Homo sapiens: one gene and its partners. The protein of the gene in region 1 purifies or fractionates together with the protein of each later gene. This does not show direct contact. Each region holds a gene or a part of one and is shown on either strand. Other genes may lie near its edges.

Region 1 (3,723 bases):
ACAGAGACCCAGAGAGATGGGGACAGAGACCCAGAGAGAGAGGGACAGAGACCCAGAGAGAGAGGGACAGAGACCCAGAGAGATGGGGACAGAGACCCAGAGAGAGAGGGACAGAGACCCAGAGACATGGGACAGAGACCCAGAGAGAGAGGGACAGAGACCCAGAGACATGGGACAGAGACCCAGAGAGATGGGACAGAGACCCAGAGAGAGAGGGACAGAGACCCAGAGAGACGGGGACAGAGACCCAGAGAGACGGGGACAAAGACCCAGAGAGAGAGGGACAGAGACCCAGAGAGAGAGGGACAGAGACCCAGAGAGATGGCGACAGAGACCCAGAGAGAGAGGGACAGAGACCCAGAGAGATGGGGACAGAAACCCAGAGTAAAGGGGAAACAGAGACCCGGAGAGACGGGGACAGAGACCCAGAGAGAGAGGGACAGAGACCCAGAGAGATGGGGACAGAAACCCAGAGTAAAGGGGAAACAGAGACCCGGAGAGACGGGGACAGAGACCCAGAGAGAGAGGGACAGAGACCCAGAGAGAGAGGGACAGAGACCCAGAGAGAGAGGGACAGAGACCCAGAGAGAGAGGGACAGAGACCCAGAGACATGGGACAGAGACCCAGAGAGATGGCGACAGAGACCCAGAGAGAGAGGGACAGAGACCCAGAGAGAGAGGGACAGAGACCCAGAGAGAGAGGGACAGAGACCCAGAGAGATGGGGACAGAAACCCAGAGTAAAGGGGAAACAGAGACCCGGAGAGACGGGGACAGAGACCCGGAGAAACAGGGACAGAGACCCAGAGAGACAAGGACAGAGACCCAGAGAAAAGGGGAAACAGAGACCCGGAGAGACAGGGACGGAGACCCGGAGAAACAGACAGAGACCCAGAGAGATGGGGACAGAGACCCAGAGAGAGGGGGAAACAGACCCAGAGAGAGGAAGACAGAGACCCAGAGAGACGGGGACAGAGACACAGAGAAAAGGGGAAACAGAGGCCCAGAGAGACAGAGACAGAGACCCAGAGAGACAGAGACAGAGACCCAGAGAGACGGGGACAGAGACACAGAGAAAAGCGGAAACACAGACCCAAAGAGATGAGGACAGTGACCCACAGAAAAGGGGAAACAGAGACCCGGAGAGACGGGGACAGAGACCCAGAGAGAGAGGGGGACAGAGACCCAGAGAGAGAGGGGGACAGAGACCCAGAGAGAGAGGGGGACAGAGACCCAGAGAGAGAGGGGGACAGAGACCCAGAGAGAGAGGGGGACAGAGACCCAGAGAGAGAGGGGGACAGAGACCCAGAGAGAGAGGGGGACAGAGACCCAGAGAGAGAGGGGGACAGAGACCCAGAGAGAGAGGGACACGGAGACAGAGGGAGACAGAGACAAAGAGACGCAGAGAGAACGGGACCCCCTCAGAGAGAAGATAGGTGGGGCGGAGGGGACAAAGAGAGCCAAGACAGGGATGGGCGGAGGGGCCAGGGTTCAGGGCGGGCGTCCCGGCTCCACTCTGGAGCCCCGAGCATGCAGCCCCCTGGTGCCCGGGCCCCGCCCACAGAGGCCCGCCTCACATTGCTGTGCTTGCGGCCGGCCCCCGTGAAGTCCAGCTCTCCGTAGGCATCGGTGGGCTTCTCCGTGGTGTGTGCATCGCTGTCCCACACGGTCACCACGGCTGCCCCGAAGGCATCCTCCATGGCCACTGCGGGGTGGGCGGTCCGGGGGCGCCCACACTGGCACAAGGTCCCTCTGGGGGTGCGAGGGCGGAGCGTGAACCCAGGGCTGCCCCCCGACCCCAGCACCCTGTCAGCGTGTTCATGCTCCTGTAGAGGGGGCTGTCGACACTGAGTCCACACCCACAGAGGCAGGCAGAGTCCACGCTGCCCCTGGCCCTGGCTCTGACGGCCTCGGGGAGAGACTGGAGCCGAGGACGGTCCCCTTTCCCCACGGGAAGGAAGCCAGTGAGTCCAGAAAGCCTGAGCAGGAAGAAGCAGGTCACTGTCACCTGAGGAGCCTCAAGTGGGAAGGCAGAGGGCCACTGGGGGTATCCTTGCTGTGCCCTGTGCCCCCATCCAAACACATGACGTTCAACACGAGAAAGAACATCCAGCGGGTAACTCAGGGAGAGCCCGCATGCTCGGGGCTGACGCGGCTGTGTGACTTTGGGCGAGCGGCTTCACCTCTCTGAGCCTAAATTTCCTCCTCTAATGAAAAGACAATAATAGCGCGGCCTACTCCACGGAGCTATGAGGAGCCAGGGAAAGAACGCCGTGTTTCCTGAAATGAGGCTCGCATACCAGTCCCAGCCAGAGGCAACGCGACACGAACTTCACACGGAGCTTAAAATAACCTTGAATAACGCAGTGAGAAAGTCATTCCTTTTTCAGTTCTCCTGACGACTGTCAAGGAGAGAGGCTCAGCCGGGTGCTAGAATATTTTTGAATGCCTAACCCTTTGCTACTCTTTTGAACAAGAAAAGCAGGCCTCGGGCTCAAAAAATGGAGCTGGCAACAGCCATCTAGCGAGTAGGGAAACACCTTTGTTTGCTTTTCATTGTCTTTGGCTTCTGTGTGGCTTGTTTCTTCCTCTCTGTGCCAAATGGAACAGGTTTCCATTTGGAAAGTTTCCACATATAAAACTTTCCCCCACCTAAAGAAATGCACAAGTCTCTCTTGCTTTCTAAAGGTGATTGGCACCTGAGTAAGTAACAGGGGTTTGGAGAATGAGAAATTCATTTGAAAATGTAGGGTCGGGTATGATGGCTCATGCCTGTAATCCTAGCACTTTGGGAGGCTGGGGCCAGAGGATCACCTGAACCCAGGAGTTCGAGACCAGCTGTGCAATATAGTCAGACCCTGTCTCTAAAAATAAATAAATAAATAAAATAAAATAAAATAAAATTAGCCAGGTGTGGCAGCATGTGCTTAGGAGGCTGAGGCAGGAGGATCACTTCAGCCTGGGAGATCAAGGCTGCAGTGATGCAGAGAGCTGTGACCACGCCACTGCACTCCAACCTGGGCAACAGAGTGAGACCCTGTTCAAAAAAAAGAAAAGAAGGAAAGAAAAGCAAGCAAGCAAGCAAGCAAGCAAGCAAGCAAGCAAGCAAGAGGCCGGGCGCAGTGGCTCATGCCTGTAATCCCAGCACTTTGGGAGGCTGAGGCGGGTGGATCATCTGAGGTCAAGAGTTTGAGACCAGACTGGCCAACATGGTGAAACACTGTCTGTACTAAAAAAAATACAAAAATTAGCTGGTCGTGGTGGCGGGTGCCTGTAATCCCAGCTACTCAGAAGGCTGAGGCAGGAGAATTGGTTGAACCCAGGAGGCAGAAGTTGCAGTGAGCCATCACACTATTGTACTCCAGCCTGGGAGACAAGAGCGAAACTCCATCTCAAAAAAAAAAAAAAAAAAAAAAAAAAAAAAAAAACTAAGGAAAGAAAGGAAGGAGGGAGGGAGAGAGACAGAGAGGGAGGAAGGAAAGGAAGGAAGGAAGGAAGGGAGGGAGGGAGGGAGGGAAAGAGAGAGAAAGAAAGAGAAAGAGAGAAAGAAAGAAAGAGAGAGAGAAAAGAAAAGAAAAGAAAGAGAAAGGAAGAAAGAAGGAGAAAAATGTATCTAAATTCTTTGTTCCAGATTCCAGGAGTTCAGATATCAGGGGAGACCTGTATTTACACAAACCTAGTGAGCAGATTTAAGAGCAATTTTACAGAAGGGATAGCAGAGGTG
Region 2 (3,723 bases), on another chromosome or scaffold:
GTTTTACTCTGCCCCTTGTTCTTGCCTTTCTAAAGAAGAGACTTTGCTCTTTAGTCTTACTTCAGGCAGAATCCCCAAATAAAGTATCTGCCTCAGTGTATAGTAATTCTTGGATTCCCCAAACTGGGTGTGAGGTTTAGTAGATTTCATTAGAGTCTTCATCTGTTATCGGAGGGGAAGTTGGTTTTCCCACTTATGCTTGGGCATGACACATAATGTGTAAATAACCATGATAGAGGATCATGGGCAGAGAGCATTGGATGAACATTAATAGGATTCATCAAATCAAGGAGGGTCAGAGGCCCCATTTTACAAGGTGTGATAGGAAAGCAGTGTGGGGTCTTGTTTTTCAGTTTTTGAGGTGAAGGAAGGTTGTAACCATGGCCTTCTAAGTCTGAAAGTGTATTCATTGGCCTGGGCTTCGTGAGACTTTTTTTCCCACTATATGGAACTACTCCATGTGTAAAGACAGAGTGCCCAGCAGCAGGAGCAAACCAGAATTAGCCATAACTACTAAGCCTCTTGCCCACATTTACTTAAAAAGATGGAACTGGGGCTTCAAAGCAAACTGTATTGGCTTAATACTAAAGGTGAACAGAAATGAAAAATCTATCACTTAAGTGGTTAGGAATGAAATCTTTGGAACCAGACTGCTTGAGTTTGAATCCAAGTTCCAAATCCATGTCGTTTGGATTATCTAATTGCTGTGAGGTGTGGTCTTCTTATTTTTATTCTTTTATTTTATTTTATTTTTTTATTTTATTATTTTTTTTTTTTTAGAGACGGGGTCTTGCTATGTTGCCCAAGCTGGCTTTGAAGTCCAGGGCTCAAACAATACTCCTACCTCACTCTCCTGAGTAGCTGGGACTACAGGTGCACACCACTGCACCCAGCATTCTGATTTTTCAAATGAGATAACACAATTGTGAGAAGTAAATGAGATAATGCATGTAAGAGTACTTGGCACATAATTCTCCATAAATTTTAGCTATTTTTAGTTGAAGAAAAGCTGCTCTTTCTCCTCTTACTTGGACTTTAGGGAAAGTGGCTGGCAGCAACTCCTGAAATATCTTAAAATATTTGTAAAATATAACGTGTGTCTTAATTATTGCTAGTGAAAAGGTCTTGCTGTAATCTTTCAAAAGCAAATTTTAATTGTGAGTATCCAGATTTTACTTTACCTTGATGATGCAAATGTGTGCCTCATGCACCAGGAGAGGCAATTTGCTCCCAGATCCTCCTGTTTACGGACATCTGCAAAGGCCACACCAACTCTGTAGTCCAAATGCTCATCCACCTCCACCTCCCAGTAATGGTGCCCTCGGACTGGAATTAGATTTCCCATGACAGCAACACACCTGGTTTTAGAAAGTGGAAGCATGTGTGATCTGGGGTGCCCCAAGCCTGGCTGTGCAGGTCAGTGATGCCAGTTGCTGGGATCAGTCAGTCGGTGGTCTACGAACGTGGTGGTAGGTGCTTCTGGACACTTAACTTGTAAAGTACCCTTAGCTCTCAAAGCTCAGTGGGCTGATACTGAAGATTTGAGATTATGTTACTGCTTGGTAATGGGAGAGGAGGAGGCACTAAACCAACAGAACAAGTTTTGTTTGCTCTTTAAAATGGTTGGGGCTTTCATAGAAAAAGGTTTGGTTCACTTGTTCATAAAAAAAGAAAAGGGTTGAAAATACACAACACAGCACGGTTAAGGGAACCATAAGCTTGAAGTTCACCACCATTGCTTATGGTACTAAATGAACATGGAAGGCCTTTGAGGTAGCCATCATGTTAGGGATGACTCCTGGTGGAATTCAGAGGCCAGCCCAAGGAGAACAAGATAGCAGATTCCTCACAGATCATTAAAATCTACCTCCACTGTTGCACTGGGAACAATTATACTGACAAAGATTAGAGTTATGTTTTGTTCTACATCAGCAAAGTATCAACAGAGGAAGGTTTTCAGTGAAAATCAAATTATACTGGTATCTCCAAAGTGAATATTCTACCTTCTTCAGGAGACTCCTACATTAACCAAAATATATATAGACCTCAACATCCCTAGAAAGATTTGTTCAGTTTAAAATTTTCTCTCTACTTTCAAAACCCCAAGTTCTTACTGCTCAAGCAAAGCTTTGGGAAGGAGGTTGCATGTTGGTTAACTTCTACCTCGGTTACCTCACCTATAAAATGAGGCCATCTCTGCTTCAAGCTCCAGACTCACATTTCCACTTGTTGTTTCAAATTCAGAATGTCCCAAATGGAAAAAGTCATATTCCCACCCCTCTTATCTACCAAAGTTTGGGGTGTAGTGGGGAGGGGTACATACTTCTCACATCTCCATTTTGGTTAATAGAGTCATTATCTACCCGGTAACCCCCTGGTGGAAAACTAAGATGGGAATAATGTAGTGGCTACAAGCTCACCTTCTAGTTTGATTCCTGCTTCAACCCTTAATAGCATTATACTCTTGGGCAAGTTACTTCTCTGTGTTTTAAGTATTCTCATCCGTCAACTGGGATTGGTAATAGTACAGGGCTGTTAGGATGATTGCATGAGATGAAATACATTTAGCACTTGGTAAGCACTCTATAAATATGGCAATATGATAGTCCCTGACTCATCTTCCTCTCTGTTGCCCTTTAAACAGGTGAGCACCTAGCCTTGTTGGTTTTATGTGCTCAACAGCAGTTGACTCCCCTGGCTCCTCTCACCCATGCTACTGCGTAGTCAAGCCCTCCATAGTCTCCTCTCTGGTCTCTGTTTCCCATCTGCCTTTGCCTTTCCCTCTCCCTCCCCAGCTCACGTTCTACCATGCACTGGAATCTTTCTGAAATGTAATCTGATCTTGTTCCCCTGCTTTAAATCCTCCAATAATTCTCACCACATAGAGGATAAAATCCTAACTTTTTGTGTGTATACTGGACTTTCTCCGACTTTCCTGCCTCATCTTCCACCTCTTCCCGTCATGGATCCTATACCGCAGACATACCAAATTCCTTATATTTCTCCAAACATGATCTTTCCGGCTTCTTTCATATGTACATGTACAAAGCAATTATCTGCCTTGAACTTTGGAACAGACTCACTCCATGGCCAGTTTTCCATCAGGAGTTTTGCTGTAAGGTACCACAGTGCAGGAGAGAGAGCACTGGGCTAACTGGTGGGAGACCTGGGTCCTTGTTTCTGTTCTCCCACTAGCCCACAGCATGACCCCTGTGAAGCAGGAGAACAGGGTCTGGGGGCAGGGAACCTAAGGACTTCCTAGAACTAAATTAAACGGAAAAACCCCAACCTTCTAAGTCCAAGTAAATAGCTTTGTATTTCAGCATGGCAGGAAACATCCTCTTCATTTGCATAGGGTGTACACCCAGTAAATGACTTTGTAACTTCACTTTAGCCACTTCATATACATAGGGTGTACACCAAGTAACCAGTGGGAACCTCTAGAGGATATTTAAACCCCAGAAAATTCTGTAACCCGGCCCTTAAGCCGCTTGCTTGGCCCACTCCCACCCTGTGGAGTGTGCTTTCGTTTTCAATAAATCTCTGCTCTTGTTGCTTCATTCTTTACTTGCTTTTTTTTTTTTTTTTTTTTGAGAAGGAGTCTCACTCTGTTGCCCAGGCTAGAGTGTAGTGGCGCCATCTCCGCCCCGCGGGTTCAAGCAATTCTTCTGCCTCAGCCTCCCGAGTAGCTGGGATTACAGGCACCCGCAACAGGCCCGGCTA
Region 3 (3,500 bases), on another chromosome or scaffold:
ATTTGACACTTCTCCTCTGCTGCTGCCCAGACAACAGTATCTTCTTTCTTCTACTCTTCCACTCTTGTCCACTCCCGTCCCCATCCACTCTATCCAGCTGTCACAGTTATTCTTTTAAAACAAAAATCAGGCCATGCCACTTTCCTGTTCAAAGCCCTCATTGGCTTCCTATTATACTTAGAATAAAATATAAAGTCCTTCCTAACCTACAAGGAGCCATATGATCTAGCCTCTGGTGCCTGTTTGACCTCATTCCTCACCATAGCTCAGCGTGGGCATGCTGGCTCCGAAGGCTTCTTGCTGTTTTTCAAACACATGCAGCCTTGCTGGGACACCTGGATAGCTATAAGCAAAAGAATGGAGCCTGGACTCCTACCCCACTCAACAACCTAAAGATTAGAGCTGCAACTATAAAGGTCTTTGAAGAAAACAAAGGGGCTTGGACTTGACAATAAATTCTTATATATGGCACTAAAAGCACAAACAAAAGGGAAAATAGATAAATTGGAATTCATCTAAATTAAAAACTTCTGTGCATCAAAGGACGTTACCAAGACAATGAAAAGAAACCTACAGAATTGGAGAAAATGTTTGCAGATCATATATCTGATGAGGGTCTAGTATCCAGAATACACAAAGAACTCTTACATCTCAACAACAAAGACAAATGACCAAATTTTAAAAGGTGGCAAAGGATTCAAATAGACTTTTCACCAAAGAAGATATACAAAACGGTTAACATGCATATAAAAAGATGCTCAGCATCATTAATTTCAAGGAAAATGCAAGTCAATACCATAAACCCACCAGAATGGCTATAATAATAATACTAATAATTTAAAAACCAGAAAATAACAAGTGTTGGTGAGAATGTTGAAAAAATAGAGCGCTCATACATTGCTGGTGGGAATGAAAAATGGCACAGCCTCAGTGGAAAAGAGTTTGGTTGTTGCTCAGAAAGTTAGACACAGAATTAGCATATGACCCAGCAATTCCACTCCTAGTTCTATATCCCAAAGAACTGAAAACAAGTATTCAAACAAATACATGCACATGAAGGTTTGTAGCAGCACTGTTCACAGTAGCCAAAAGGTTGAAACAACCCACATGTCCATCAACAGATGAGTGACAAAACAAAATGTGGTCTCTCATATAATGAACTACTATCCCGCCATAAAAAGAAATGAAATATTGATACATGAAAACATTATGCTATGTAAAAGAAGCCAGTCACAAAAGGCACATACTGAATGATTCCATATATGTGAAATATCCAGAATAAGTAAATCTGCAGAGACAGAAGATGAATTGGTGGTTGCCACAGGCTGGGGAAAGGGGAGAGAATAGGGAGTGGCTGCTTAATGGGTATAGGGTTTCCTTTTCAGAGATGAAAATGTTTGGAACTACACAGAGGTAGTGGTTGCACAACACTGTGAATGTACTAAACTACCCTGAACTGTCCATTTTATAATGTTTAATTTCCTGTTAGCCCAGCTCAAGCCCTGGGCTCTGGCTGTCCCTCTGCCTGTGAACAGAGTTCCAGAGTCCTCCCCAGAGTTGTTCCTGGTCTGCCTTCCCTATGTTCAGGTCCCTGCTCACAAAGTCATCTCCTGAGGGGTTCTTCCTGACCTTCCCCCACTTAAAGTGTCACTGCTCCTCATCCACCCACCCATCTACACATGCAACAGCAAATTCTCACTCACCTTTCACAGCCAGGCTTGGCTGTTACCTCGAGCCCTAGGCAGAACTAGCCACTTCCTACTAATGTTCCTGCGGCCCTTTACAGTGCAGGGATCTGTCTGCTCACCGTGGCTAGAGGCTAACCCTTCCTCAAGGGCGGAACAGGTCTGTGTTCCCCAAAGTACCGGCCCAGGGGCTTACTCCCCAGCACCAAGCAGATGCTTGCTAAGAGCCTGCTGCTTGAACTGAAGGTAGTTGGTTCCTTCAGAAGGAAACGACTGTGTTGCTGCTTAAGAAGGCATTGCAGTTCCTTAGGACAAAGCCACTCTTTACCCTGAAGGGAGAGAGTATGGCTACAGTGTTAACTGTCCGGGCTCCCTGCCCAGCTGGCCTGGAGGAGCCAGGGCTACAGAAACCTAAGCCTCACCTGGAGCTCCCAGAAGATGCTGCGCGTGTGGCGGTGGTAGTAGTGTCTCAAGGGAATGTACTCCAGGCCCTCTCGGTTTGTCTTCAGATAGTTCTCCACATGCTTAAAGAACCACGGCTTGTAGTAATTGCCAATGCTATTCAGCTGAAATGACAGAGGGCATTGTGATCAGCCTGCAGACAAGCGCCCAGCACCATCGGGGTGTAACAGCGACACCCGGCTTCTGTTCAGCACTCCTGGCCTTTTCAAAGCTCTTTCATGTCTATTACTGCCTTTGAGACTCTTGAAAGCTGGTGAGGTTAGGCACAGCGGGTATCCTCTAGCAGAGAGAGCAGGAGCTCAAAGAGGTTAAGTGGTGTGTGCCCAGGGCCAAACAGTGAGTCCCCGACAGTCTAGAGAACTCAGCGACCCCGCCTAGCCTGGTGCAAGTGTTTAACAGAGTTAAACATTTAACTGCCCTGATGCAGTGCCCCATGCAGGGGAATTCCCTCCCTCCCTCCCTTCCCACCTTCCCCAAGGCCAGGGAAGCACGAACTCTGGGAATGGGTCAGCCCCTCAGTGCAACCCAGGGCTCATGGCACCAACTGGTCATGGCACTTTCCCTGCTGTCCCTGGACCAAGCTCCACAGTCCTCCGGGTACAGCACTCCCCAGGCAGCCACCATCGTCTGGAGGATGCTCACATGAATAAGGCTCATACCTCCCTGGCCCTGGGGGCTCCCACACCCAAATCTTCTATTGAGCTGATGTCTCCTGCAGCCCTAAATGGTCATGACTCAATGTGCTGTGTGCCTTGGGATGGCTGAGCTTCTCCTGGCCTCAGCTTCCTCATCCATAAATGAATTCTGGCAGATGCTCTCGGGGAGAGGCAGGGGGGATCCTGGAAAAGCACAAGCTTTAGGGTGGGCAGCTGGGGACACACCCAGGCAGGTCATCTCTGAGCCTGTTTCTTCACATGTAACATGACAATAAAAATACATACTTTGTGGGAGTTATTTGTCTATTAGAAATTACATACATATGCCCACTGTTTTTAAAAAATAGGACCATCTTTTTTTTTTTTTTGAGACAGAGTCTCGCTCTGTCGCCCAGGCTGGAGTTCAGTGGCACGATCTTGGCTCACTGCAAGCTCCACCTCCCTGGTTCACGCCATTCTCCTGCCTCAGCCTCCTGAAAAATGGGACCATCTTACACGTACTGTTTGCCAATTTGCTTTTTCCATTTACAACACACTTAGCAGAGCCTAGGCAGGTTACTTAGCATTTCTGGAAGACTAAAAGAGATGATGTAGAAAGTGCCAAGCACGGTGCCTGGTCCACAGGTGGCTGAAGTATCAGTCCCCACCCATTCCCTTGTTGACCTGCTCTACCCTACAGCCAGGCAACCCTTTGCCG

The links.
Region 2: the proteins of TRPM4 (region 1) and FSD2 purify together in Homo sapiens (co-immunoprecipitation; one large-scale study listed by IntAct). This does not show direct contact.
Region 3: the proteins of TRPM4 (region 1) and DHCR24 purify together in Homo sapiens (co-immunoprecipitation; one large-scale study listed by IntAct). This does not show direct contact.

Annotation. Positions count from the first base shown.
Region 1 is NC_000019.10:49,164,069-49,167,791, reverse strand, and holds part of TRPM4 (transient receptor potential cation channel subfamily M member 4), read right to left. Parts: intron 1,752-3,723; coding exon 1,577-1,751; intron 1,571-1,576; exon of another isoform or gene 614-1,570; coding exon of another isoform or gene 1-613. UniProt on the Homo sapiens protein: Calcium-activated selective cation channel that mediates membrane depolarization. While it is activated by increase in intracellular Ca(2+), it is impermeable to it.
Region 2 is NC_000015.10:82,760,921-82,764,643, forward strand, and holds part of FSD2 (fibronectin type III and SPRY domain-containing protein 2), read right to left. Parts: intron 1,359-3,723; coding exon 1,182-1,358; intron 1-1,181.
Region 3 is NC_000001.11:54,863,196-54,866,695, forward strand, and holds part of DHCR24 (delta(24)-sterol reductase precursor), read right to left. Parts: intron 2,252-3,500; coding exon 2,108-2,251; intron 1-2,107. UniProt on the Homo sapiens protein: Catalyzes the reduction of the delta-24 double bond of sterol intermediates during cholesterol biosynthesis.